Homo sapiens: one gene and its partners. The protein of the gene in region 1 interacts with the protein of each later gene in a pairwise test. Each region holds a gene or a part of one and is shown in the gene's direction. Other genes may lie near its edges.

What was found.
Region 2: the proteins of PATZ1 (region 1) and SMYD1 interact in binary tests that used the Homo sapiens proteins (3 or more experiments, as listed by UniProt).
Region 3: the proteins of PATZ1 (region 1) and RFX6 interact in binary tests that used the Homo sapiens proteins (3 or more experiments, as listed by UniProt).
Region 4: the proteins of PATZ1 (region 1) and KLF1 interact in binary tests that used the Homo sapiens proteins (3 or more experiments, as listed by UniProt).

Annotation. Positions count from the first base shown.
Region 1 is NC_000022.11:31,329,320-31,336,350, reverse strand, and holds part of PATZ1 (POZ-, AT hook-, and zinc finger-containing protein 1 isoform long C), read left to right. Parts: intron 1-487; coding exon 488-659; intron 660-934; exon of another isoform or gene 935-1,002; intron 1,003-7,031. UniProt on the Homo sapiens protein: Transcriptional regulator that plays a role in many biological processes such as embryogenesis, senescence, T-cell development or neurogenesis. Interacts with the TP53 protein to control genes that are important in proliferation and in the DNA-damage response.
Region 2 is NC_000002.12:88,070,825-88,077,824, forward strand, and holds part of SMYD1 (histone-lysine N-methyltransferase SMYD1), read left to right. Parts: intron 1-7,000. UniProt on the Homo sapiens protein: Methylates histone H3 at 'Lys-4' (H3K4me), seems able to perform both mono-, di-, and trimethylation. Acts as a transcriptional repressor. Essential for cardiomyocyte differentiation and cardiac morphogenesis.
Region 3 is NC_000006.12:116,915,223-116,922,253, forward strand, and holds part of RFX6 (DNA-binding protein RFX6), read left to right. Parts: intron 1-785; coding exon 786-863; intron 864-978; coding exon 979-1,092; intron 1,093-2,814; coding exon 2,815-2,864; intron 2,865-3,914; coding exon 3,915-4,074; intron 4,075-5,087; coding exon 5,088-5,232; intron 5,233-6,819; coding exon 6,820-6,929; intron 6,930-7,031. UniProt on the Homo sapiens protein: Transcription factor required to direct islet cell differentiation during endocrine pancreas development. Specifically required for the differentiation of 4 of the 5 islet cell types and for the production of insulin.
Region 4 is NC_000019.10:12,884,171-12,891,986, reverse strand, and holds KLF1 (Krueppel-like factor 1), read left to right. Parts: upstream 1-4,785; 5' UTR 4,786-4,846; coding exon 4,847-4,933; intron 4,934-5,844; coding exon 5,845-6,670; intron 6,671-6,926; coding exon 6,927-7,102; 3' UTR 7,103-7,565; downstream 7,566-7,816. Other genes in the region: GCDH (glutaryl-CoA dehydrogenase, mitochondrial isoform a precursor), read right to left, coding at 13-156, 465-500, 592-682. UniProt on the Homo sapiens protein: Transcription regulator of erythrocyte development that probably serves as a general switch factor during erythropoiesis. Is a dual regulator of fetal-to-adult globin switching.

The DNA of each region.
Region 1 (7,031 bases):
TGTCACTTTTGAATAAAATGAACAAATATAATTCTTTGTATAAAACTAGGGGAAACCCAGGGATACAGAACAGGAAGGCTGGTTTATATGCCAATAACTCATCTGTAAATTCATGTAAATGTAATTCTGTGCATTATAGCTAATGCACCTAAAGTCAATTCTTAATGTCTAAGGATGAGCAAATGTGTAACTCTTCATTGTGTAGAGGGGTATAGAGCTTAGCTTGCCATGTCCTGGGTACATTTCCAGTAGTCATTTAGTTAGTACCAGTGATTCCCACTCAAGTGTCCCGTAAGGAGGTACCATGGGAAATAAGAGCAGCCTCTTGGCATTCTGGGTAGGGAGCCTGAGCCAAACTCTAAAGCTGTCTTTATAAAGGGAGGTCATGTGATGGCCAGAAATTGCCTTTGCTTCATGGTGCACTTGGTGGGGAGTCAGGTGTGGGGTGCTGGGTTTCACATCATCCCATTTTCTTTTCTGCCTTCAGACCTGCAATGCTTCTTTTGCCACCCGAGACCGTCTGCGCTCCCACCTGGCCTGTCATGAAGACAAGGTGCCCTGCCAGGTGTGTGGGAAGTACTTGCGGGCAGCATACATGGCAGACCACCTGAAGAAGCACAGCGAGGGGCCCAGCAACTTCTGCAGTATCTGTAACCGAGGTAATCTGCCCACTGTTTCCTCACTTCCAGAGGATGGGCCTGAGCGTGTATGGGAGGCCTAGGGGTGTCTCAATCACCCTGCCTCAGACTCCACTCTTTGCACAGCCACCCCCTACTTCCCACTGAATGATAAACACCTTCATCACCCAACTAGCTATTTGCTACCTCTTCCTTCCCAAGAAGCTTGGGGTGCTTAGAATGGGAAGTCCCAGGAGACCAGCAGGTCAAAACAGAAGGAGAGAGGTTCTTCCCAAGCTTGGGCCCATAACTCTCACCTGCTACTCAGATGGCAGGATGGATGCATTTTGCAGACACCACTGAACCACTGAGGTTGGTGGGGGAGTTAGTAGGTCCCAAAGTGAGAGAAAAAGAGGTTGGTCCGGCTTGAGAGCTTTTGCTGGTTGATTCACTGGCATATGAAATTCAGCAGCCAGGGAAGGAGGTTGAGTCTGGAGATAAACAAGGAGCAGACACTTTGTAGCACAAGTAGTCAGAAGAGAGCCCAAACTCAGGTAGATTGTGGCCTTGAGAGAGGAAAGTGGAAGGTGCTCTGAGCAGGGCAGCATGCTTGAGGACAAGGTGGGCCTAAGTAGTGTCTAACTCTGTGGCAGTGGTGTTGTGTTGGGTGAAGTCAAGCCTGTCCCCAAGGTTCTGCCGGGTCTAGTTGGCTGTTGGAAGTGCTAGATGTTTGTGTTTTGCAAGCACAGCATCAGTGGAGGCTTGCACTGTGTCTGTGCTAAAGGAGGTTGGAGCAGCTATCTGTGAACGTGAGGATGCTTCTGCATGGTGTGCTTTGCTTTGGCCAGTGGGGAGCACTGGGATGTCCTTATCTCCTGGGGCATTCTTGCTTGTCCCAATGCTTCCGAAAGCCTGCTTAGTGGGTGCAGCACTGAACCAGGAGTCAAGAGACCCAGGGTTTAGTCCCAGCCTCTCACTAGGTGGCCTCGAGTTCTCCCATTCCCTCTCTAAGCTTGAGTTTCTTCATCTCTCAAATGGGGTTAAGAATAGCCCCCTTTCCCACCTCACAGGGCTGTTATGAGGATCCCAGGAGACAAGGTAGGTGAAAGGAGCCGCACACTTGGGAGACTCTATCCTTGCACTTTGTAACAATGTTGGGAAAGACATGCTTGTTGACACTCTGGGTTGGACCAGGCACAACACTCCTGCAGGCCTTGGCGGAATCGTTGGGTGCCTGTGCTGTGTTCATGTGCCGAGGTCCACGGTGGAAGGAGATTGCTGAGTAGCTGGGTGTTCTTGGTGTCCTGGAACTGGGTCCCTCCTTGCAGCTTCATACCTGGGGTTTGTACCACCAGGACACCTGCTGTGAAAGCAGGGAAGTAGTAGTGAAGGTCTCTTAAGCTGTCTGTTCTGTTTTCTGACATGTCATTAGAGCCCATTGCTGACAGGAGCTTCCTCCAGGTTGCAAGCGGTGGGCTTGCGCATGCAGGGAGAGTTATCAGGCTGTGGCTGACTGTCTTGACTGGGGCTTCCCCAGCCCTAGAAATAATGTCGTTTCTTGTCTTGCTTCATCCTAACCTGGCTTCCTGACAGCTCCCCCGGATAACTCAAAACCTGCTGTAACAAGCTGTTAGCAGGCATTTTGTCAAGTTTTCAATATGGAAGTTCCCAGTCTGAGAACTGGGGTCAGAGACCAGAGGTTGAAAACTGCTGAGTGGAGAAGGGTGCTCATGATAAAACTCAGAAAGCCCAGACCAGATGGTGGAGTAGGGCAGAAACTGGACAGGAGACCCAGGGCTACAGCCCTTGAAGCCCAGCTCAGGAGGAGAGAAAAACTGAGAGCAGCAGGGACAGTGGGAAAGTTGGCCCAGTAAGGAAGCAGCTGATGTGGCAAAGCCAACAACTATTGTACATCAGGATTTATTTTCCAAGGGCTAGTAAAGAGAACTTGGGCAACAGCCATAAGCTACATGACCGGAATGGAGAATCCAGAAGAGTAAACCAGAGTCTACTTTTTCTCAGAAAAGCCAAGACTGGGTCTGGATCACAGGCCAAACATCTCTGGGTTCCAGAGCCAGAGCGGGAAGTCCCTTTCCTGCAAGAAGACTAAAGAAGGTGCTGGTCCAACCCATGCTGGGTACTCAGAAAGAAGAGAAAACAATTGCAGTTTTTATCAGAAGAGAAGGAGCAGGATTCTACTCCTGGACTCATTCCTTGGGCAGAAATAGGAAGAGACAAAAAAAAAAAAAAAAAAAAAGGAAGAGGATAAAGTTCTTTCTGAGCACCAAAAACATTGAGACATTGGAATCAAAATGCAGAGAGCTCTGTGTCCTCCTTTGCCCTGCTGCCACCAAGCCTGTACCTACAGGAGGGGTTGCACGAATAAACGAATGTTCTTATCTCTGCATGTGTTCAAACAAAGGCTGAATGTCAGAACAGTTAAGATTGAATCAGGTGAACTTCCAGGTGCCCTCAGATCCTTCAATCCCAACAATTCTTAAATAGTTGACTTAAGTATCTACCTATAGATCTGTCTTTTTCAATTTTTGCCACAAAAATGACTCCTGGCTGTGAAGAATGGCAAAGAGGAAAGGCAGCCTGACTCCTGCAGCCTCACACGTGAGTCAGATGCAAGTTGAAGAGACAGATGACTCTGGCTTTGTCATACAGACATATCAGGATGTGTATGATACTATTTGTACAGGAAGATCATTTGCAGTGGAGGGAGTATTATGGCTAGAAAAGCTTGTTCCCACATTTTTGAGTTGAGGAAATCAGTTGAGTTGAACAGTGGAAAAGGGAGAAGGCCCTGGCTGATCACCATGATTTTCTTCCTTTAAAGTTTCTGTAGCAGGATCTTTGTATATATGCCTATGTGCTGGTATGGTGAAGAGGAACAGATTATCAGGAATCCGCCTTTGACAGAGACATTTGAATGCAAACATCATTGCTTGAAAGGTAGAGGAAGCCTTCTCCCCAGTCAGAGGTAAGCACACAAGTGGATGGATGCAGGGAACCTGCTGTTCCCCTGGACTCACATCAAGCTATGTAGGCCCACTCCAACACAGTGCAGTTGGGAATGGCCCCTTCAGGGTTTGGACAAGGAGAAAGCAGTCCCCAACCCCTGCATTGATGTGGAACCTGCCAAAGGATGATTTGCTTCTGGAGTGCCAAGTGCAGGCACACCAGGCAAGAAAATGCAACTGAGGAGCAGTGGCCTTTTGCTAATAAGACCATCGTCTCTGGAGTGAAAGGGCCGGTGGCTTGTTGGTTGTAGTGGCAGTCATATGTGTGCTCAGCATCTCCATTGCGTGGATGGCTGGATCAAGCTGCCTCTTTGGATCTTGGTTAATCAGTGGTGAATGGGTGGGTAAGTTTAGAATTCCGGCTAAATATGTCTGGCTTCAAAGACGTATTCTGCTCAGAAGCTCAGCTTCTGTTTCATCCTAACACTTGGCTGCTGAGTTGCTCTGTGTTTAAATTCTAGGCTTTAAGTGGCAGCTGTGGATCCACTCCTACCACCCCGCCATGTGGTTTTGCTATAGATAGTACAGTCTGCAGCTGGGGTAAAGTCAAGAGGACTCAGCCACGTGTTTCTAAGACTGTTTTTCAGGAAAACTCAGCAAGACAGTTTCGCTGTTGTTGCCCAGACTGGAGTGCAATGGCGCGATCTCAGCTCATCACAACCTCCACCTCCTTGGTTCAAGCGATTCTCCTTCCTCAGCCTCCCTAGTTAGCTGGGATTACAGGCATGCACCACCACGCCCGGCTAATTTTGTATTTTTAGTAGAGACAGGGTTTCTCCATGTTGGTCAGGCTGGTCCGGAACTCCCAACCTCAGGTGATCTGCCTGCCTCGGCCTCCCAAAGTGCATGAGCCACTGCGCCCAGCCAAACTCAGCAAGTTTTTATTGAGCATCTGCTGTGTTCTCTTGGTATAGCTCTCCCAGTAAGGAGTAAACATAATAATTCCTGGTGCTCTCCCGCTCCTTTCTGTCCCCTTTTGATTGCAGTGGACCTGCTCTGGTTCATCACAGGGAGAGAGCTTCATGCTATTTTAGAGACCCCACAAGGGATTAAAAAACTAAGGAAAGGCCGGGCACGGTGGCTCACGCCTGTAATCCCAGCACTTTGGGAGGCCGAGGCGGGTGGATCGCGAAGTCAGGAGATCCGAGACCATCCTGGCTAACATGGTGAAACCCCGTCTCTACTAAAAATACAAAAAAAATTAGCCAGGTATGGTGGCGGGCGCCTGTAGTCCCAGCTACCAGGGAGGCTGAGGCAGGAGAATGGCATGAACCCTGGAGGCGGAGCTTGCAGTGAGCCGAGATGGTGCCACTGCACTCCAGCCTGAGCGAGAGTGAGACTCTGTCTCAAAAAAAAAAAAAAAGGAAAAAATTACCTTCTAAAGTGGTATCATCATATTATCAGAAAGTTCTAATATCTTGTACTGATTGGTGGGAGCCAATGTCTCCTGGTTCTGCTTTGTTTTAGGGGACTCTACAGTACCACCCCAAGGGGCAGGGCTAACAGCCTCTTTCCCATTAGCCTTGTCTCCTCACTCCTGACTACAGCCTCCCTCTTAGGGATGTCTACATGGGACCCTCTTACACCAATCTATACCCATGATCAGCCTCAGGCAGACCACTGCGGTCATAGCACAGGACAACTTGCTCTACCAGGCAGGGCAGGACACCAGCACCTGGTCTAGACAGATCTTTGAAGTAGCTGTATTGGGAAAGGAAGGAAAATTGGCCCAATCCCACATTTCCCTTCAGAACCACTAACTGCTGCTGTCAGAGGAGAACTTGTTAAATAAAGTTCCCACAGGCCAGCCCTGTTTTTCCAGCAGCTTCCATTCTAACATACCATTATGGTCGAAAAATACATGAGTGTAAATGGTAATAATGAAACCTATTGTAAAAGTCCACTGGATATTTCTAGGGCTCAGGGCTAAGACACAGGAACCAATTAACCCATTTATGCTGGAGGTTACAAACTTTTTTGTGAAAAATCAGACTTTAATGATGATCTTGAGCAGTAGGATACAAATAATTCCTAAAAGGTTAGCGTCCCAATAATGGAACATGAGGCATAAGTGGGTTAAAGCATCTGCCCAGTAGCTAAGGGCCAAGTTCTGGTGGCACATGATCCTGGGGTTGGAGTCCAGGCTCTGCCACTCAGTAGCTGTACGTGTGACCAGGTTACTTAACCTCACCAAGCCTCTTTTTTTTTTGAGACGGAGTCTCGCTCTGTTGCCCAGGCTGGAGCGCAGTGGCATGATCTCAGCTTACAGGTGCCTGCTACCACGCCCAGCTAATTTTTTATATTTTTAGTAGAGACGGGGTTTCACTGTGTTAGCCAGGATGGTCTCGATCTCCTGACCTCGTGATCTGCCCACCTCAGCCTCCCTAACCTCACAAAGCCTCTTATTTCTTTATCTGTAAAATGGGTATAATAGTAATCTGTAGCACAAAGGGTGTTGGGCAAATTCTATAGAATAGTGCATGCGGTGTGCTGGGCCCTGGTGTGCCATCAGCACTTCCTAAAGGTGAACCTTTATTACAGTTCCAGCAGCATTCAAAATACCATGCCAATTCAGACTTTTTTAAAACAAATCTCATGCAGACATTACACAGTACTCTTCAGCCTCTGACCCTTTACCCTTTAGCAGTGGATCTCACTGTTATCCTGTGACTGTGTAATTTTGAAAGTGAATGGAAACACCTGATGATGAGTCAACCAGATCTGAAGTGGATTAAAGGGACACTGTCAGGGTGCTGGCACCCTAAGTGGGCCTTATACTAAAAAGCTTCAGTTCCTGCTAAAAGCACCTTCTGATCCTTGACTACAGTGGGGTTTGATGGCATACCTCCTTCCTGTGAAACCCAAGTCAAAATCCTTTTATCGGCCTGCCTGATTCTGTATCCTTGGACGCATGGCTGCTGTGGAAGTTGGCCCAAGATGTGTTCTTCCCAGCCTGAGATATCTCGTGGATCAGACTGACCGAAGCATCTGGGAGGTGGGCTGGAACAGTCCCAAGAAGGCCGGATTGTCCTCCCCCAAAATAAAGACAGAGATCATCCGTGTTTCTTCTCCTGTACGCGAACCTGGTGGATGCTCCAAAATCGAACCAAAACACTACCATGAATAAGAGATGACTGCACTCCTCTGACACAACTTCCTATTTTTGTCTTTGTTCTTCAAAAGGTCTAAACAGTTACTAAATCCTGTTATGCTGAAGGTGGGGAAGTTAGAAAAATAGAACATCTCCTGACAGGTAGAAGACGGGATCCTTGGAGGCGTTCCTTTGGGATTTCATTTTACCTCCATCTCGTTTGTTGTCCAGTTTCCTTTTACGAGGATTAAGCAGGCATCCTGCTGGCTAGAATCCTGTGGCTTCCCTGGAGCCTCA
Region 2 (7,000 bases), on another chromosome or scaffold:
CCCAGCTACTCAGAAGGCTGAGGTGAGAGAATCGCTTAAACCCGGGAGGCAGAGGTTGCAATGAGCCAAGATCATGCCACTGCACTCTAGCCTGGGTGACAGAGCAAGACTATTTCTCAAAAAAAAAAAAAAAAAAAAAAAAACAGTAATAGTTTTATCACAGTCACATATTTCTAAACAATGTATAATTTAGTTATGTTTTGTTTTTGATCTTTTAAACAAAGGTACAATATTATATGTGGTTTTATGCCACTTGTTTCTTTCAATGAAATGTTTATTATTCATCTGTATGGTTTTGTGAAACTAATAAAATGAATAAACTTTGTGTGTGTCTGTGTACCAAATTTATTTTTCCATTCTCCTGTGAATGGTTGCTATGAACATTTTTGCTCCTATCTCTTGGAAAGCAGATACATGAGGTGTGTATCACAGAAGTGTAATTACTAGGCCAGTAATATATGTGTTATTTGGCTTTAAAATATAATGCCATACTGTGAAATGCTGGTTTGTAAACCTGAATTGTGTCTTTGTTAGAATGGGCTTTGTTTAGCATTAACAGTAACAATCCAGGCCCTTAAATTATGGTCCTTAGTCTGGTTAGGATCTCTTCACCTTTGATGGTCGGAAAAGCAGGTACTCTTCTTGAAGGTAAGAGAGCAAGAATAAAGCTGGGAAAATTCTTTCAGGCCTAGCTATTATGTAGCACTTGGATTAAGTGCTAGGCATGACTAATCAATCAGGCACACCTTCCTCCTGAACTCCAACTTGGCCTCAGAATCCCTTCCAGCAGGTCCTCCAGGGGGCTACTACCAATCAATGAGAACTAGCATTTAAAAATGAAGTCTATTTGCCATCCTCTTAGGTGTTGTGGTTGGGGGCTGGAAGGGAGTGAAGTACCGTTACCAAGGGGTTGCCTTTTTTGGACACAGTATTTTATGGTAGTTGAGATACCGGGGGTGATGCACGAGTGGGTAAAAGTTGCTCTCTGCCCCTTTAACTCTCCACTCTGAGAGTTTCCAGTTCTCAGGGGGAAAGTGAGTGGGAGCTCTGTGGTACCTTAGCCCAAGTGATCCTCCTAGCTTCTACATAGCATGGGGTCAAACTGGGAATTCGCAATGCTGGGTTTTGTTGTTGTTGTTAAGGAAGAAAATAATAATTCTCTGCAATCTTAACATTTGGAAAAAAAAAAAAAACCCCAGCTATTAACATTCTGGTGTATATCCTCCTTGTTTTCTGATGCAAATACAATGCATATAAAATGTTTTCTTGATTCTGATGAGTTATAGGTGGGGTGGGGGTCCTGGAAGAAATACTACATTATTATTGTTATTATTTTTATTTTTTGAGATGAAATCTTGCTCTGTCAGCCAGGCTGGAGTGTAGTGGTGAGATCTCGGCTCACTGCAACCTCTGCCACCTGGGCTCAAGTGATTCTCCTGCCTCAGCCTCCCGAGTAGCTGGGACTACAGGTGCATGCCACCACACCCAGCTAATTTTTGTATTTTTAGTAGAGACAGGGTTTCACCCTGTTGCCCAGGCTGGTCTCGAACTCCCGGCCTCAAGTGATCTGCCGGCCTTGGCCTCCCAAAGTGCTAGGATTACAGGCGTGAGCCACTGCGCCTGGCAGAAACACTACATTAAATATATGCTTTGATTGTAAGACACAAAATGTCCCTAAATTCTGGATATTAAAATATGGGAAAAGAAGTTTATTTCAGAATGGAGGGAAAATGGGACATACATAATATGCTATATTTATCAATTCCAGAATACATATTTTAACTTCTCTGAAATCATAATGTATCCTAAAATCTATGGCTGATTATGGTTTAATTGGCAGATTTTTTTTGATTTCTTAGTAGTGAATAAAAATGGTGCATTTAATAATTTCAGGTTCAATGTAATTAAGTTGTATACACTTTTTCTCTCAAAAAAGTTGGATTATTTTGTAACCTGTTTTATTTACTTCATAATATGTTGTGAACAACTTTCAAACCATTAATATCCTTCTACACCATTTTAATGGCTGCATAGTATTCTTTTTGTTGACTTGTATATTAATTTAATTAGATGCCATATATTAGTTTTTATTTTCATTTTAGATTTTGGGGGTACATGTGCAGGTTTGCTACATGGGCATATTGTGTGATGCTGAGGTTTGGGCTTCTAATAATCTGCTTGCCCAGGTAGTGAACATGGTACCCTATAGGTAGCTTTTCAATTCTTCACCCTCTCCCTCCCTCTCCCCTTTTGGAATCTCCAGTGTTTATTGTTCACATTTTTGTGTCTATACATACCCAATGTTTATCTCCCACTTCAAAATGAAAACATGTTATTTGGTTTTCTGTTTCTGCATTAATTTGCTTAGGAGAATGGCCTCCAGTTGCACCCATATTGCTGCAAAGGACGTGATTTTGTTCTTTTTTAACAGCTGTGTAGTATTACAGGGTATATATGCACCAGGTTTTCTTTATACAATCCACCATTGATGGGCACCTGGGTTGTTTCCATGTCCTTGCTACTGTGGATAGTGCTGTGATAAACATATGAGTGCAGGTGTGTTTTTGGTAGAATAATTTATTTTCCTTCAGGTAGATATTCAGTAATGGGATTTCTGGGTCGAATGGTAATTCTAGTTTTAGTTTTTTGAGAACTCTCCAGGCTGCTTTCTACAAGGGCTGAACTAATTTGTAGATGCTATGTTTTGGAGATCAAGGGTGTGCTCTTCTTTTTCCTAGTAGATCTTCCCATATATCTCTGATTATGTATTAAAGACAAATTCCTACAAGTATAAATTTTGAATTCAAAATACGTTTTTAAGGCTTTTGATATAGATTTCCAAATTACCTCATCAAAGGAGATCATACATTTTTCTACTAGCAGCACAGGGGTTGTCTCCTCATCCCAATACTGGCCAACACAGAAAACTATTTCACTTTTTCATGTTTGTCAACTTAATCTGTTAAAACTTTTTTTAGTATTGTTTTAACTTGAATTTTTTATTATTAGAGAAGTGAAAGTTTTTTAACATTTGTTCTTTTATGAATTGTTGTTTTCTTTTGATGCCCTCAATTTTTAAGTATATGCATAACTCATTTGTTTATTACTCCTTTATGTCTAGTTCTCCCCTCTATTACCTAGCTCGATGCACATAACAGATGCTCAATAAATACTTGTGGAAAGAATCAGGGAGGGAAGGAAAGAGAGAGAAAGAGAGAGGGAAAGAAGATGGGGTTTCACTATGTTGCCAAGGCTGGTCTCAAACTACTGACCTCAAGAGATTTGCCTGCCTCAGCCTCCAAAAGTGCTGGGATTACAGGCGTGAGCCCCTAGGCACCTGGCCTTTAGTTCCCTTTGCTGCTGTCACAAACTACTGTAACTTCAATGGCTGAAAACAACACAAGTTTATTATCTTATAGTTCTGGAGGTTAGAAGTCTAAAACAGGCTGACACTTCTGTTTCTTTGCTATCTCCATCTACTTGAGGCTGCCCACATTCCTTGGCTCATGGCCCCCTTCCTGAATCTTTAAAGCCAGCAGTGTAACATCTTGTTCCCTGCTGACCTCCTGCCTCCTCTTATAAGGACTTGCAATTACATTAGGCCCACCTAGGAAATTTGGGATACTGTCCTTGTCTCAAGGTCTTTAACTTAATCACTCATGCAAAGTTCCTCTGCCATGTAATGTAATCTATTTATAAGTTCTGGGGATTAAGACATTGACAATTTTTGGGGGGCTATTATTCAGTCTACCCCAACGAAAAAGAATTTTCTAGATTGATCCAATTCATCACAAAATATGTTAAGAAGGAGCAAGGACAGTTAGTGGATTTTTTTTTAAAAGTTCTTTAAATAAAAACTTGAGCAGTCTCTAAATTATTCTGGTTACAAAGTTGAAAGTGACCCGGAGATTATGTATATATAGTGTGTATATAGGGAAAAAGATAGTGGGGAACATGAGAAAAAGTTGAGTATTTGTAAATAAATTACTGTCAACCAGGCTTTTTTTGAAAATGGAACCAGTTATGAGCTTTCTTAGGTGCGGCAGAGCAGGTGGGGTTAGTCAGTGTAATTCTGTGTGAGCATGTGGGAATGGCAGGATCAGCCCTGGCAGACACACAAACACACATGTGGCCTTTAATCTGATAACAGCTGGTGGTTGGTTATTGGGGGATAAATGATGCTATAAATGGAAATAATTTAATAAAAGGATTAGAGAAATTCCGGAACAATTAGTTCAGAAAATGAGTAAGTGCTAAACTATTCAAGTGACAGCCTTAAATGTTTGCATTGGATGTTGAGAATAACCACAGTCGACTTAGAATTCTGCTTTTCATTTGGCACTTTTAGCTGCAGAGGCAAGACATGTCGACATGTTACACAACCTGTTGTGAGCTGTATTGCTAAATATTGCTCAATAATTCTTAAATCCAGAAGTCTGAGAATGATTGCCTTTTAAAGATGGATTAGATCAAATGGCAGGTTGTCCCCATAATGATGCTATCTTTACCCACTCGCATCCCAGGATGTGTTCTGAACATGAATTGAGGGGGGTGCTTCAGCTAGGCCATGGAAATGTATACAGGTCTTAGTAGGGTGTGTGAGCTGTGGCAGAGAAAATCTTGAGAATTGATGTTTTAATAAAAAAAGGGATGTTAAAAATAAATTGACAATCTCCAGGCTTGATCCAAGGAAACAGTACCTTTTAATTCTTTTTTTTTTTTTTTTTTTTTGAGATAGGGTCTCACTCTGTTGGTCAAGCTGGAGTGTCATGGCACAATCATGGCTCATTGCAGCCTCTACCTGCTGGGCCCAAGCCATCCTCCCACCTCAGTCTCTGGAGTAGCTGGGACTACAGGTGCCTGCCACCATGGCTGGCTACTTTTTATTTTTGTTTTTTGTAGAGGCAGTGGTCTCACTATTTTGCCCAAGCTGGTCTCAAACTCCTGGGCTCAAGTGATCCTCCTGCCTCAGCCTCCCAAAGTTCTGGGATTACAGGTGTAAGCCACTACCCCAGCCCCCACTGACTTCTTATGTCAAGGTATTTAATAGTCAGTGCAAACATGAATCTCATGATCTCATCCAACGGCTAACTCTGTCTCCTATATGTACACCCCCACACCGACACATTTGCCTATCAGTGCCTCTTTCTGGAAGACCTCAACCTTCTCTGAGTACAAACTCAGCCTATCTCTCGAGGTCAGAACAATGCCTCCTCATCTCGTAGGTGATGCCTTTCTAGATTGCCTCTCCTACCTCAGTTGAAGTAGTCTCTCTTCCTCGAAACTTACAGCAAGTTACCATGCTTGTGGAATGTGGGTCCTGCCTTGTTTATATGTGTTTATGTCCCATCCCAGCCTGGGGACTGCTTGAAGGCAAAGTCGGTATTTCCTTTATCTTTTTTGTTTTTGAGACAGAGTCTCGCTCTGTCGCCCAGGCTGGAGTGCAGTGGCGTGATTTCGGCTCACCGCAAGCTCCGCCTCCTGGGTTCACGCGATTCTCCTGCCTCAGCTTCCCGAGTAGCTGGGACTACAGGCGCCCGCCACCACGCCCAGCTAATTGTTTTTTGTTTGTTTGTTTTTAGTAGAGACGGGGTTTCGCCGTGTTGGCCAGGATGTTCTCGATCTTCTGACTTTGTGATCCGCCTGCCTCGGCCTCCCAAAGTGCTGGGATTACAGACGTGAGCCACCGCGCCCCGCCTTCCTTTATCTTTTAAGGCCCTCTATTACCTAGCTCAATGCACATAACAGATTCTCAATAAATACTTGCAGAATGAAGCAGGGAGGGAAGGAAAGACAGAGGGAAAGAAGAAAAGAAGAAGGAATGAGAAAAAGAATTTAAAATATTGTGAAGTTATCTGGGTACTTGAGGGATGGGATGTTCTTTAAGACACCTACCCCAGGCTGGGCACAGCAGGCTTACGCCTGTAATCCCAGCATTTTGGGAAGCTGAGGCAGGCGGATCGCTTGAGCTCAAGAGTTTGAGACCAGCCTGGGCAACATAATGAAATTCCATCTCTACAAAAAAATAAAAATAAAAACAAGCCAAGCGTGGTGGCATGTGCCTGTAGTCCCAGCTACTTGGGAGGCTAAGGTGGGAGGGTCGCTTAGGCCCAGGAGTTTGAGGCTGCAATAAGCAGTGATTATGCCATTGCATTCCAGCCTGGAGGACAGAGAAAGACCCTGTCTCAAAAAAAAAAAAAAAAAGACACTTCCCTCTAATTTTTGAGGAGAGACCTTCTGGCAGGCTGGGAGTTTGTAAGCATCCCTGAAAGACAGAACGGTTGAACTGTTGGTCCTGTCCTCTCTGGCTGAGTTTTTGGAGGGCTTGCCCACCATGCAGGCACCTTGTCTTTGCATTTATCTGTCCGTGAGCAACTATTTCCATACAAGGAGCTGAGCAGCAGCTGCCCTTCCAGCCCTCTTCACTCTGACAGATCACAGAGTCCAGCAGGGCTGCAGAGCAGAGTGAGAGGGGACCAGCTGCTGGAGCAGGGCACATTCAAGGCTGCAGGCCAAGCAGGTGGGCCTTGTAGCTGCATCCGCCCGCCTTCTGTGCTGGGAGCAGCGTCCGGCGTCAGGGACCCTTAAGAGAATAATATCCCTGTGAGGATAATGATCTCGGCCAGTCTAAAGGGTTGCTGTGAAGATTTTTAAAAAAACGAATCACTAAAAACATCTCTTTGAAATGGCAAAGTGCTGTGTAAGTGGGAGTTGATACCTTCTTGTGTGAATAGGAATGTAAGACTCGGGAGAAACGAGACTTGCTGAAGGTCACCCAGCTAAGACTGCCTGGGACAAATGCTCTTTCTCGGAATCCAAAAAGTGGCTTTAGGACTTCATGTTATTTGGACACTCTCCTGCACTAGGGGCAGTAAGGCAGGGGAGGGGTGGGCATTTCTTTTTTTTTTTTTTTTTTTGAGACGGAGTCTCACATTGTCACCCAGGCTAGAGTGCCGTGGCGTGATCTCGGCTCACTGCAAGCTCCGCCTCCCAGGTTCAA
Region 3 (7,031 bases), on another chromosome or scaffold:
TCCATGGTAACTTGAAAAGAGAGACTTTTCATAATAGACATTCAATGTTTGAAACTTTTTTTTGGAAAATGCATCATTTGATATTATTACTAACTCTGGATAATGTTTAGTAAGGTCTTACTGGGTGCCAGGCACTGTTCCATATGTGTCACATCCTATTTTATTTGATTTTCTTAACACCATGTAAGTAATATGTTATTACTACCTACTTAAAAAGCTTGGGAGCTCAGAGACAAAGCCACTTTTGCAGTCATACCTGGTAAGTAGTGCAGTGAAGGTGGGCACCCAAGTTGAGCTGACTCCAGAGACAAAATTTGAAACCATTATGCCATACTGCTCCAAGCATCCACTTCATAAAACTGTGTGAAGATTTGATGTATTTTACTACTTTATGTTTATTTATCCAAATCTTTGTTACTACTTTTACTACTTTATGTTTATTTACCCAAAAATTAATTTTAAAAAATTTAAATTTAAATTAAAAATTAAATTTTAAAATTTAATATTTTAGTAGGCATAAAACTAGGATGTTACTTTGGTCCATAGTACTCTGAAAAATTACCTTTTTCATATTATACTGTAGTTGTCCATTTGTTTGCTTTTCTCCCTTCACAAGGCAGTAAGATCCTTGAAATAAGAATTTTGCCTTAATTTTTGAGTCCTCAACATTGAGCATACTGCTTGGTACGTAATAGGATCTTTTAAAAAATCTGTGTTGAACAAATTAACAAGAAAAGGCAGTGTTAAAAGGATGCTTTGGTTAAGCTTTTTCTTCCTTGAAATAGGTTGATACGCTCATAATGATGTACAAAACTCACTGCCAGTGTATCCTGGACAATGCAATTAATGGAAACTTTGAAGAGGTAAGAATGACAAAGAATGCTTTATTTGACCCTATTATATATACTTTCATGTTCTGTTCTTAATGAGTTCATGTTAAAGAAAAAAATCTTAACATACTTTTTACTCTGCAACTAGATCCAGCATTTTTTATTACACTTTTGGCAAGGAATGCCTGACCATCTCCTTCCCCTGCTCGAAAATCCTGTTATCATTGATATTTTCTGTGTTTGTGACTCAATTCTTTATAAGGTAAGCACTTTGGGATGTCTTAAACATGAGCCATTTATTTCTTTACGTAGCATTCTATCTAAATTCTTGCAATATATTTTCAGTAAATATGTTATTTATGGCTGGATATACACTGTCTTTTTTTTTGATGAGAAAGCAAGCAATTTAATAGTGCACGTTTAATAGTGTATGTGTTTTAATTGAAGTTTACATTAAGTAAAACAAACTCAATTTCTTTTTACAGCTAATAATGAGTCTATATGTGACACACTTATTAATATGTGAAAACTTAGTTAAATTTTATTAACTCTCTAAGGTGTTTTCAGATTAAAATAACACAGTGGATTTTTTTTCACAATGCCAGTGTTTTGGCAGAAAGCAGAATTAGGCACCCTTATGAGATTAATAACTTGAAAATCTCAAAAACCTCTAACTTTAATGCATTAATGTCTAATTCTCTTCTCAAACCAAATCAGAGTTCCTAAGTGTCTGCAGAAGGATCTCGAAGACATCCTAAATAAGGACAAACTGATTGTCCTTCTAGGCAAACATTTAATGGAAGACAGAAAGAGGCTAATTCTTGACAGTCTCTTCCCTGGTGGCTACAAGTTCTAAGCTGATGGATAAAACTATATTGCAATGTGGGTACTTTAAAGTGAGTTTGCCTACATTTGCTTTCTAACTTACCATAAGGAAAAACAAAAGCTTTCCTTTTAAAAAATAATCTGAGTTGGCAAGAAAACCCAAGCTGGACGCTGTTAAACATTTAGGAAATAAAATCCTTCTAAGTTAGTTGCCACTATCAGATTCTCAGCTTTGCAGAAAAGTAAAGCAAAAGCTATTTATAGATAAACTAAGTCCAGAAGCCCCTAAGCAGACCAAGAAGTAATGAGACAACTTGAATAAGAGAGTGCATATTTTTATCCTCTGTCCAGTACTTCCTCATCACAGGATAGGAGAAAGGAGGAATAAAGTACAATATATTTTCTGCCTTTAGTTCAAGTTCAAGTTGAAAAAATTTCAGAGGAGAGTAAGGATTGTCTTGTTTTTTTTTTTTTTTCTGGATTGAATATGAATGCCATTATTTAGAGAAAAACAGTTTAATTTGCATTAATTGTTTGTAATGCTTAACACTTGACAAGGCTCCCAAAAGGGGAGGGGAGGCAGCTCCGTGAGTGAGTATAAGAAAAGACCTGGGGCTCATGCACACAAATTTCCATCAGACCAAAGCTTTTTGGACTGTCATTCAGTTTGTCCAAGAAATACTTTTAAAACACACTTCTCCCTTTAAGTGATCTGTTTTTTTTAGTCTAGTATAAACATCCTGACTTTAAATATCTTTAAATGAACCTGGTTTCTCCTCCTCATGGTGGACCCAGAGAGGCACAGTGAGCTCTGTAAGTAGAACGGTGTAAGATGAGCTTCTACAAAAATCTTCCTCCCACCTCTAGAAAGTGGTCAGCTTTTCATCATAAAACGGTATATGATTACCATGGACCAATCCATTGGTAATTAACATACTGAGCATGTACATATACAGTGCTATCTCTTGTTTTTATTGTCATACACACTCACACACAACTCATACATACATTCATTTTGGAGATAAAATTATAACTTTGAGAAAGGAGTTAACATGTTATTCTCTAGGAAGCTAGGAATAAAAAGTAGTTGACCAATAATATGTCTTTCTATAGAAATACTAAGTAAAGATTTGTATTAACCTCTTTTGCTATGATTAAGGTTCTTACAGATGTACTCATTCCTGCAACAATGCAAGAAATGCCTGAAAGGTATGTTCAGTTAATAAAACATGAGCATTCCTAGTATAGGATTTAACTTTATACATTATATTAGAAGAAAACATTAGGTAGTAATTTATTCATTTATCAAGAAGACTATTTTCTACTTTTGTCCCTTTGTATTTGCTGGAAGAGATGTGTCTTATAGCTGGGCCTCAATAAACAAAATGGGTGAAACAATCCTTCAATCCCTTTAATTTGAGAGCGGCTAAAGTGAAAAATAGATTTAAGCACTGTTGATCTTCGAGAAATTTTTCAATGGAAACTAGCTGGAGTATGATAAAAAAGATAATTAATGGAAAATAACCACAAGAATAAAAACTATAGGAGAAATTATTGTATTTTATTATTAACTTTTGTCTTAATTACAAAATCAGAAAGTGGCATGATGAAATTACTGCCTTCTTTTAACAAAGGAATAAAATCTCAAATAGTTTATTGAAACAATACCAGAAGATTTTTCAAAAAAAAAAAACCTTTTCAATATAAGAACAATAGAATTCTGAAAAAAAAAAGCCAACTTTTTCTCTGAAAACAAAATCTAATGAAATGATAAAATTTATTTTAGTATTTTGGGGGTACAAATTCATATAGGACTGGACATAGTTGGTGCTCCAAAAATAGATGTTGCTTGGTAAAACAAATTTTACTTTTTATTTACCTTTTCCTCCAGATTATTTCATCTATATGATAGTTGGTATTAGCCTGATCAATAATGTCTTTTAATTATCAATTGTAGTCTTTAAATATCTATTCTGTACTCTGAATTGGGTACTTGAAGTGGAGTTTGAAGAGCTTGAGTGTTTTGACCAAGATGATAACAAAACATCTCATGTACCCCATAAATATATACACCTCCTATGCACCCACAAACATTTTAAAAATATAGCATAAGAAAAGATGATAAATGGCAGATCTAGGCTGTCTGACTTCAAAAGTACTGCTTATGAAACCATAGAATAATAGTATACCTCAATTAAAATATGATTGTTTAATGCATTTTTTAACAATGAAGCATTTAACACATAGCCTTCTTTGTAGCTTATTAGCAGACATAAGAAATTTTGCTAAAAATTGGGAACAGTGGGTTGTTTCATCCTTGGAAAACTTGCCAGAAGCTCTAACTGACAAGAAAATACCTATTGTGCGAAGATTTGTATCTTCTCTGAAACGACAAACATCTTTCTTACATCTTGCCCAGGTATGTTGGTTGCTAAGTCGAGAGCATTTGAGTCACCATATAAAAAATGAATCTTCTGAGAAGGACAGATTGAGGAACTTTCATAGATTGAAGGGAGCTAAGTAGACAACAACTAAATGCAACGTGAGACCCAGAAGTGAATGCTATGATAGAAAAAGCACATTAGTGGGAAAGCTGGTGAAATTTGAATTATGTCTGTAGTTAATAGTATTGTACCAATGTTAATTTCATAATTTGGGTAATATACAATAGTTACAGAAGATGATAAGAAGCTGGATGGAGAGTATATGGAAATATTCTGCACTATCTTTGCAACTTCTCTGTGATTGGAAATTTAAAAAACTTGAATGCAATTAAACATTTATTTGCCATGTGAATCTAATTGGTACAAATTAAGGTTGTGAGAAGTAAGCCTGTGTGATACTTAATATTGTGAAACCACAAACTCAACACATTTTAAACTGCCGACTAATCATGGCTCTTTTAAATAGAGCAAAAGTAATTCATAAGTTAAGAATGATGCATTTGTATATTGTTAAAATATATTTCTCTTTCCCCAAAATGATTATCTGCTTTATGAAGGTTTCTTGCCTTCTAAATTTTAAAAGACAAGCTTGAGATGATTTCAGATAGGAAATGTAACATTTAAAAATTCTTATTTTGTGATCATGGACAAAGAGAATCCATTTATATTTTCTTTTTCTATTTTTTATTATACTTTAAGTTTTAGGGTACATGTGCACATCGTGCAGGTTTGTTACATATGTATACATGTGCCCTGTTGGTGTGTTGCACCCATTAACTCATCATTTACATTAGGTGTATCTCCTATAATTTTCAGACTTTTAACAGAGATGATCATGAGTCTCAGCTACTGCTTTTGTCTTTAAAATAAGAAAAAAGTTATTTATGATACTTTTATCTCAAGGAACTATTTTTCTGATAGCTAAAAATTTCTTCTAGATACATTAGAAATGATATAGTGTAGTGTCTTCTTTACTTTCTCTATGCAGATTGCCAGACCAGCTCTCTTTGACCAGCATGTCGTTAATTCTATGGTGTCTGATATTGAAAGGGTTGATTTGAACAGCATTGGCTCTCAAGCCCTTCTTACCATTTCAGGCAGCACAGACACTGAATCTGGTATCTACACTGAACGTAAGTCCATTCTCTTTGTTTAGAACAAGGTTTTCTAAGCTCAGAAAATTGACATCTTGAGCTGGGTAACTCTGTTGGAGGAGCCTGTCCAGTGTGCTGTAGGATGTTTAGCAGCATCCTTGACCTTTACCCATTAGATGACAGTAGCAGCCTCCCCCAAGCTGAGACAACCAAAAATGTTTCCCCACATTGTCAAAGGTGTTCTGGGCTGAAAAATCACATCTGATTGAAAAAAAACCTGGTTTATAAAAATATTTTTAATTAAAAAAATTTATCTTCTAATAAAAAATAGTTATAATTACTCACCATGGAAAAGATAGAAAATATTGAGGAAAATAAAAGTCATCTGTAATTTCATTACCTAGAAATAAATGAAATGGAAATAATCTGAAAATAATCAAATTGTTTTGAGTTTTGTAAGTTTTCTTTCAGTTTTACATTACATGTATAGAAATTTACATGTGTTTTATAGTCTTGTCATCCTGTGGTGTGTGATAAATATCAAAATGGTATCTCAGCACAATACTGCTTTTCAAAGCAGACTCTCTACTCAGGTTTGGACCATCTGAGAGAGCTTACCAAGCCAATATGCATGGCTAGACAACTAGGCTTGAATTTCAAGGGATAACAGCCACTATTTTTTCCTCCCTCTGTCTTTGAAAAGACAAAACCTGCAGCCTCCTATACACTGGAGCACAAACTATGGACTGCTCTCTGGGGCCCAATCTCAACTCCACTTTTTATTTCCTAACATAAAATAGGATTACCTTTTGAGATTCAGTAAACCTTAAAACCTTTAATAAAAGGATAGTCTTAAACTGCCCTTTTAAATATTACATGATAAAACGTTATTCAGGTAAATGGCTCAATTCTGCTGAGAAGAAATTAACTTTTACTAAAGATAAAAGATATTTTGGAAAGCAGGAAATCACCAAGCTTAGGTTCATTCATTCACTTTTAACTAATCTGTTCCGTTTAATGAAAACACTAGACTCAAAATGAATATTTAACTACATAAACAACTTAATCTTCCCTAGTATGTGAATACACATATAAGATTTAAACCTATATTTCAATATATACCAAGATATATACACTTATTAAAATTTCGGGCACACTTCAAGAGGCTGAGGTGGGAAGATTGCTTGATCCCAGGAGTTCAAGGCCAGCCTGGGCAACACAGCAAGACCTTGCTCTATAATTTTTTTTTTTTTTTAATTTAGGCAGGCTTGTTGGTGCGTGCCTGGAGTCCCAACTGCTTGGGAGGCTGAGGCAGGAGGGTCACTTGAGCCCAGGAGTTTGAGGCTGCAGTAAGCCATGATCACGTCATTGCACTCCAGCCTGGGCAACAAAGCAAGATCCTGTCTCTCTCTCTCTCACACACACACCATTGAAGAGTACAGTACTAAGGATTTTTTTGTTACTGTTTTCAAGATATGATATTAATTCTTTTCACACATTTATCTGTCTTTCCCTTTCATGCTATCAAAGTATTGATGATTCCAAGTTTTAGGTTTTCTCTTGGATTCCAAGTAGAGTACAATATTCTGTTTTCTTTTCTTTCTTTTTTTTTTTTTTCCTGGGTAGATGACTCTATCACTGTGTTCCAAGAACTGAAGGATCTCCTTAAGAAGAATGCCACTGTGGAGGCTTTTATTGAATGGTTGGATACTGTGGTAGAACAGAGAGTTATTAAGGTACTTTTTAATGACAGATTCAGAAAATAAGTTCCTTGTAAAGAGTAAATGCTAAACTGGCTATAATTTTTTGTCTGGGGGGAGAGGGGTGGAAGGCTGTGT
Region 4 (7,816 bases), on another chromosome or scaffold:
CAGCCCGCCCACCTTCGTTGCGATTGGCCAACAGGATGCGAGGCATGAGTCTCTCCTGGCAGTAGGTGCGGAAGGTGTCCCTGATGAGGATCTCATCTGTGGTCAGCTGCTCCTCCAGCACCAGCGGGTCCTGCCAGTCAAACTCGGGACGCGAGGCTGGGAAGGGGAATTCGCCTCGGTCCAGTCCGCAAGATCACTGTGCCCTCCCTTCTCGGACCCTCATCAGCCCTACCCCCCAACACCCATGTCGCCCCCCGGCTAGTGCGAGCTGCAAGCGAGACTGATCAGGTGACTTTTCTCCGGCCCCGCAGGCACAGCGCACTCACTGCCTTAGTGCCTCTGACCCTGGCCACGACCCTGCCACCCCGCTCGGGCAGCTCTCGGATTCTGGGACAGAGTCCACCTGCGGCAGACAGACAGCTGAACAGGGGCAGCAGACACACGGTGCGACCAGAGGTCCTTACACTTAGCCAGTTGGCTCTGTGTTCTCCCGCCTTTCTCTGCAAGCACAGAACGGGAAAGTCACCCCGGAAAGTCCCTAAACCCCCAGTTCCTCCCTCCTTCCCTCCACACTCCCGACCCCACACTGACCGGTCTGCGCCGCCGACGAGACCCACGTGCGAAGGACGTGCAGGCCGGGTCCGCGGCTCAGCAGCCGCACGGAGACGCCTCTCAGGGCCATGCTCTCTCAGAGCGAGCGGAGCAACGACGGCGACCTACAGGAGCGGGGGTGTCAGAGCGGAGCTCCTCTCACCCACGGCTGGGGCTACCGCACCTTCCTTACCTGGTAGTACCTCCCGGTTCACTGCCGAGGCTACAGTGCAACTGACGCAGGCCTTTGACCTCAGCAAGAAGTGGGAGGAGCGGAGGCCGAGTGAGGCTTTTCATTGGTTCCTCCTAGAATCCGGCCCCCTCCGCAGCTCTGCCTTTTAAAAGGGCTAAGGTAGCCTTGCCTGTGGAAATCGGGGGGCCCAGACAGAGATAGGCTAGCCCCTTTAAGAAGCGGACGGGGTAGGGGCGGAAGACGAGTGCGGGAAACCGATTGGCCAGCTGGGTTTCTCCTCTTATTGGCCGTAGGAAAGGGCTCGGCCCACTCCTGGTTGGTCAGTTGCAGGGGGTGTGTGCGGAGGGAGTCAAGAATTAAACAAAGAAATTCTGGCGCGAGCACTAGGCGTCCTCCTGAACCCAGGAGGCCAGACTCGAGTTCTCTAATTGGGTGCTGGTTGTGGGGAAGACGAGCTCCAAGTGGGCGATCTTAGCAAACCTTTCTGCCAGTCTGTCCCAGGAAGCACATGTAGATACTTGTGACTCTGTGTGTGTGTGTGTGTGTGTGTGTGTGTGTCTGTGTCTGTGTATGTGTGTGTGTGTGTGAACTTGTGTGATTCTGTGAGTCTATGTGGTTGTTTTGTTTTGTTTTTGTTTTTTCTTTTTAGACAGGGTCTCGTTCTGTCGCTCAGGCTGGAGTGCAGTGGCGCGATCATAGCTCACTGCAGCTTCCACCTCCTGGGCGATCCTCCCACCTCAGCCTCCAAGTAGCTGGGACCACTGAAGCATGCCATCATGCCTGGCTAATTTTTTTTTTTTTTTTTTTTTTTTGAGACGGATTCTCACTCTGTTGCCCAGGCTGGAGTGCAGTAGCGCAATCTTGGCTCACTGCAACCTCTGCCTACTGGATTCAAGCAATTCTCCTGCCTCAGCCTCCTGAGTAGCTGGGATTACAGGTGTGAGCCACCATGCCTGGCCTTTTTTCTTATATTTAATAGAGACGGGTTTCACCATGTTGGCCAGGCTGGCCTCAAACTCCTGACCTCAAGTGATCCACCCACCTCGGCCTCCCAAAGTGCTGGGATTACAGGCGTGAGCCACCGCGCCCCGCCTGTTTTGTCTTTTTGTGTAGTGCATTTGTGGTGCACCCATTCTGATTGTGTATCTGTTGAGAAATGTGTGTGTCTTGATTCTCAGGACCTGTGATGCCATGTCCTTGCGTTTGTCTGTGTTTAACTGGGTGCATCCCCTACGGTTGGGCACTGGTAGCTATGCAACTGTGACTAAATAATTACTTTACATATTGTAAAAGTGACCGGTGGTGTGACTGTATAAAGTGTAGGTTTTGACTGGCTGGGGCGGCTCATGCCTGTCATCCCAGCACTTTGGGAGGCCAAGGAGGGTGGGTCACCTGAGGTCAGGACCAGCCTGGCCAACATGGGGAAACCCCATCTCTACTAAAAATACAAAAATTAGCCAGGCCTGCTTGTGGGTGCCTGTAATCCCAGCAACTCGGGAGGCTGAGGCAGGAGAATCACTTGAACCCAGGAGGCAGAGGTTGCAGTGAGCTGAGATCATGCCATTGCACTCCAGCCTGGGCAACAAGAGTGAAACTCTGTCTCAAAAAAAAAAAAAAAAAAAAAATTAGCGTGGCGTGGTAGCAGGCACCTGTAATCCCAGCTACTTGGGAGGCTGAGGCAGAGGAATCACTTGAGCCTAGGAGGTGGAGGTTGCAGTGAGCCAAAATCATGCCACTGCACTCCAGCCTGGGTGACAGAGAGAGACACTATCTAAAAAAAAAAAGTTCTGTGACAATGTATCTGACTCCCCATGTGTGTCTGCTCAATTACGGCTAAATTGTGTCAGTAGGATTGTATAACTGTGTGCCTGCCTGTGGATTATGAATTCTGTGTTTTAGAGATTGTTTGGCTATGACATTGTGTAACCAATATAGCATAGGGTTGTGTTTTAGTGCCTGGGAATTGTATGTCTGTGCATAGTCCATATACATAGACAGACACACAATTATATGTGCACGGATTATATGATCAGTGTGACTGAGGGAACAGGAACTCATGTCATTATGTAATTGCATGGTCCTGTGAGTAACTGTGTTTTTGTTTTTGTTTTTAGAGATGGGATCTCGCTATGTTGCCCAAGCTGGTCTTGAACTCCTGGGCTCGAGCATTCCTCCTACCTTGGCCTCCCAAAGTGCTGGGACTGCAGGCATGAGCCACTACTCACTGCTCCAAGCCTGTTTTGTTTTTGTTTTTTAGAGACAGAATCTCACTCTGTAGCCCAGGCTGGAGTGCAGTGGCATGATCTTGGCTCACTGCAACCTCTGCCTCCCAGGCTCAAGTGATTCTTGTGCCTCAGCCTCCCGGGTACCTGGGATTAGAGGTGTATGCCACCATCCCCGGCCTATTTTTATATTTTTAGTAGACAGGGTTTCACTGTGTTGGCCAGGTTTGTCTCGAACTCCTGGCCTCAGGTGATCTGCCTGCCTCGGCCTCCCAAAGTGCTGGGATTACTAGCGTGAGCTACTGCGCCTGGCCCCATGCCTCCAAGTTTCAACCAGTTCTCCAGCTCAGCCTCCCAAATAGCTGGGATTACAAGCATGTGCCACAATGCCCAGCTAATTTTTGTATTTTTAGCAGAGAGAGGGCTTCATCCTGTTGGCCAGTCTGGTCTCGAACTCCTGACCTCAAGTGATCTCCCCACCTTGGCTTCCCAAAGTGCTGGGGTTACAGGTGTGAACCACCGCACCTGGCCTTGTTTTTGTTTGTGTCACCCAGGTTGATCTGCCAGGAATAAAGATGGCCACCCAACTTTTTTTTTTTTCCAGCGACAGAGTCTTGCTTTCTGTGCCCCAGGCTGGACTGCAGTGGTGTGATTATAGTTCAGTGCAGTCCCGACCTCCTGGGCTCAGGCAATCCTCCCACCTCAGCCTCCTGAGTAGCTGGGACTATGGGCATGCACCACCACTCACAGCTTTTTGTTGGAGAGATAGGTTTTATGTTGCCCAGGCTGGTCTTGAAATCCTGGTGTCAAGTGATCCTCCTGCCTCAGTCTTCCAATGAGTGACTATGAGTTATGTGTCTGTAATACGTATCCATGTCCCCTTCCCAGGCTCCCAGGGCACCAGAGTGGAGGTTCCTGTTGTAGAAACTCAGATCCTCTCCTCATGTTGGGCAGAATCAAGGAGCAGCCAGGCCCAGAGCCAGGGCACTGGTCTCCTGCAGGTCAGGTACTGCCTGTGGCTTGATCCAACGGTCCTATCCCACCCAGGAGGAGAGAGGGTCACTTTTCCCTTGGCTGCCCCCATCGCACTAAAGCAGCTGGCACTGAACCAGCCTCCATGCAGTCCCATGCAGTGCCACCCAAGGGTCCCCAGTAGACAATGGTGGGCCAGTTGTCAGGGGCTTCCTCCTGCTGCAGGGCTGAGACCCTGGGAGGTCCCAACCCAGGCAAATTGAACGCCAGGCTAATTTGAAGACCCAACTCCCAGCCCTCCCCTTCACCGGAGGACAGAGCTCTAGCTGGCCTGGGCCCCCACCTGATAGCAGCCTCCAACGTCTGGGGTGTCTGATAATGCTTGGCGGGGAGCTCGTGCCAAGTCCCGCCATCAGCACGGTTGTTGCTGTTTACTGGGGAGGGGGAGGGCTGTGGAGCCTCAATCAGGGGGACAGGGGGTCCCACAGCTTCTTCCCAGAATACCCTTTCTGCCTTTTCCAGGAAAGTTAACTGAGGGAAGACCCCCAAGTCTCTCCTTCTTTGGAGACCCAATGTCTGTTTTTACCCAGCACCTGGACCCTCAAACCCTGAACCCCCCAACCCTTGATATTTGACTTGGCTTTGGACACAGGGTTAGTCTTTAACCCCAGCCCCAGACAGGCCAACGTGAAGTTTGTGCCCCAGAAACAGTGCCCCCCCGCCGCCTTGCCTTGCTTTGCCTTATCAGAGGCTGCAGCCAATCAGCTAAGGACAGAGAGGAGCCCTCGAAGGGGCTATCACAGCCTCAGAGTTCACGAGGCAGCCGAGGAAGAGGAGGCTTGAGGCCCAGGGTGGGCACCAGCCAGCCATGGCCACAGCCGAGACCGCCTTGCCCTCCATCAGCACACTGACCGCCCTGGGCCCCTTCCCGGACACACAGGATGACTTCCTCAAGGTGGGGCCTAGAAGGTGGGGTCTAGGTGGGCTGGCTGGAATCCAGGGCCACAGTCACAGATCTTGGGGTCCAGACCTGCATCTTGACCTGAAATCAAGAGACTTAACCAGGACTGAGGTACGCTCAGTCCAGGAGAGGAGATCTCAGCTTAGTCTGGCAGGGGGTGAGGAGGGTGGTCTAGGGGTTTGAGGTTCTAAGTGTGATCTATTTCGGTAATAGAAAACGAAGGTAGCCTGGGCAACATGGTGAAACCCTATCTCTACAAAAAATACCAAAAACATTAGGCCAGGCATGGGGGCGTGTGCCTGTAGTCCCAGGTACTCCGTAGGCTGATGCAGGAGGATCATTAGAGCCCAGGAGATTAAGGATACAGTGAGCTGCACCACTGCACTCCAGCCTGGGCAAAAGAGTAAGACCCTATCTCAAGAAAAAAAAAAAAAAAAAGGAACGAGATCTAGGCTCACAGACAATCTTCCAGATATCAGCGGGAAATGATGAGTGTGTCTGGGGGACATCCAAAATTTCGGAATTAATCTTGTTTTGGGAGACAGGGAAGGAGAGGGATGTTCTGGGGGAAAACTAAGTCAAGGCTGGCATCCTCTCCCCCGTCCCCTGCCAGTTTTCCATCTCCAGCAGCTCTGCTACCCCTTCCCCCATCCCCGAGTGTGGTTCCAGATAGTGGAAGTCTTATCTCCTGTCTCCAGCCAGACCTGATCGGTTTCTGTCCCTGGAGCTGGGGGGGGAGCGGGGAGAGGGGCGGTTAGAGGGGCAGTGTTGGGGAAGTGGGACAGACAGACAGGCAAACAAGACCCCTTTCCAAAGCCTCTGCGTCAGAGTGTCCAGCCCGCGATGTCCCTGGGCAGGGCACCCCAGTGTCCACCGAACCTCGAGCTGCCTGCTCCCTCCCGCAGTGGTGGCGCTCCGAAGAGGCGCAGGACATGGGCCCGGGTCCTCCTGACCCCACGGAGCCGCCCCTCCACGTGAAGTCTGAGGACCAGCCCGGGGAGGAAGAGGACGATGAGAGGGGCGCGGACGCCACCTGGGACCTGGATCTCCTCCTCACCAACTTCTCGGGCCCGGAGCCCGGTGGCGCGCCCCAGACCTGCGCTCTGGCGCCCAGCGAGGCCTCCGGGGCGCAATATCCGCCGCCGCCCGAGACTCTGGGCGCATATGCTGGCGGCCCGGGGCTGGTGGCTGGGCTTTTGGGTTCGGAGGATCACTCGGGTTGGGTGCGCCCTGCCCTGCGAGCCCGGGCTCCCGACGCCTTCGTGGGCCCAGCCCTGGCTCCAGCCCCGGCCCCCGAGCCCAAGGCGCTGGCGCTGCAACCGGTGTACCCGGGGCCCGGCGCCGGCTCCTCGGGTGGCTACTTCCCGCGGACCGGGCTTTCAGTGCCTGCGGCGTCGGGCGCCCCCTACGGGCTACTGTCCGGGTACCCCGCGATGTACCCGGCGCCTCAGTACCAAGGGCACTTCCAGCTCTTCCGCGGGCTCCAGGGACCCGCGCCCGGTCCCGCCACGTCCCCCTCCTTCCTGAGTTGTTTGGGACCCGGGACGGTGGGCACTGGACTCGGGGGGACTGCAGAGGATCCAGGTGTGATAGCCGAGACCGCGCCATCCAAGCGAGGCCGACGTTCGTGGGCGCGCAAGAGGCAGGCAGCGCACACGTGCGCGCACCCGGGTTGCGGCAAGAGCTACACCAAGAGCTCCCACCTGAAGGCGCATCTGCGCACGCACACAGGTGAGGGGGCGGGGCCCCGGACATGAGAAAGGGCGCGGCGCCCGCTGTAGTTACAGGGGAAGAAGGGTTGCAGAGGGCGGGACTTGGACTTGGCTGGCCTCTGAGAGTGAGTGCCTCCTTAAATTTTGTGCCCTAGGGGCCTCACTTTGTTCATCCTAGTCCCAGCCCAGGCTGAGTAAAGGGGTGTGGCCAGATGCAGGGGACCCGGGGACATGACTGGGCAGACAGTGGCGCTTATGGCTTCCTTGTCCCCTAGGGGAGAAGCCATACGCCTGCACGTGGGAAGGCTGCGGCTGGAGATTCGCGCGCTCGGACGAGCTGACCCGCCACTACCGGAAACACACGGGGCAGCGCCCCTTCCGCTGCCAGCTCTGCCCACGTGCTTTTTCGCGCTCTGACCACCTGGCCTTGCACATGAAGCGCCACCTTTGAGCCCTGCCCTGGCACTTGGACTCTCCTAGTGACTGGGGATGGGACAAGAAGCCTGTTTGGTGGTCTCTTCACACGGACGCGCGTGACACAATGCTGGGTGGTTTTCCCACGAATGGACCCTCTCCTGGACTCGCGTTCCCAAAGATCCACCCAAATATCAAACACGGACCCATAGACAGCCCTGGGGGAGCCTCTTACGGAAAATCCGACAAGCCTTCAGCCACAGGGAGCCACACAGAGATGTCCAAACTGTCGTGCAAACCCAGTGAGACAGACCGCCAAATAAACGGACTCAGTGGACACTCAGACCAGCTCCCAGATGGCCCTGGACAGCAGGAGAGGGTGTGGGATGAGGCTTCCCAGAGACCCTGGGTCTAGAAAGCGGCTCCTGAAGGTCCCTTATTGTGGCTGATATTAACTGTCAATGGTTATGGGTCCTATAAAAATGCCCCTCCCAGATAAAGCTTCAGCGTTGGCCTGAATTTTTGGGTTTTGGAGGCTGGAAGATGGCAGGAGGCTGTAAACCTAGAGGTCATATTAGAGGGCCTTACACACCCTCATCTCCTAAACTACAGTGACACCCCTCAACTCCAACAAGCCCCCTTGGGCACTGGAGGCCTTGCTGTCCTCTCTTTTCCCACCCAGTTCAGGCTACACTGTCCTTGTCTTCTGCCTTGAACCCTGCGGACATTGACAGCAAACATCTCCCTGGAT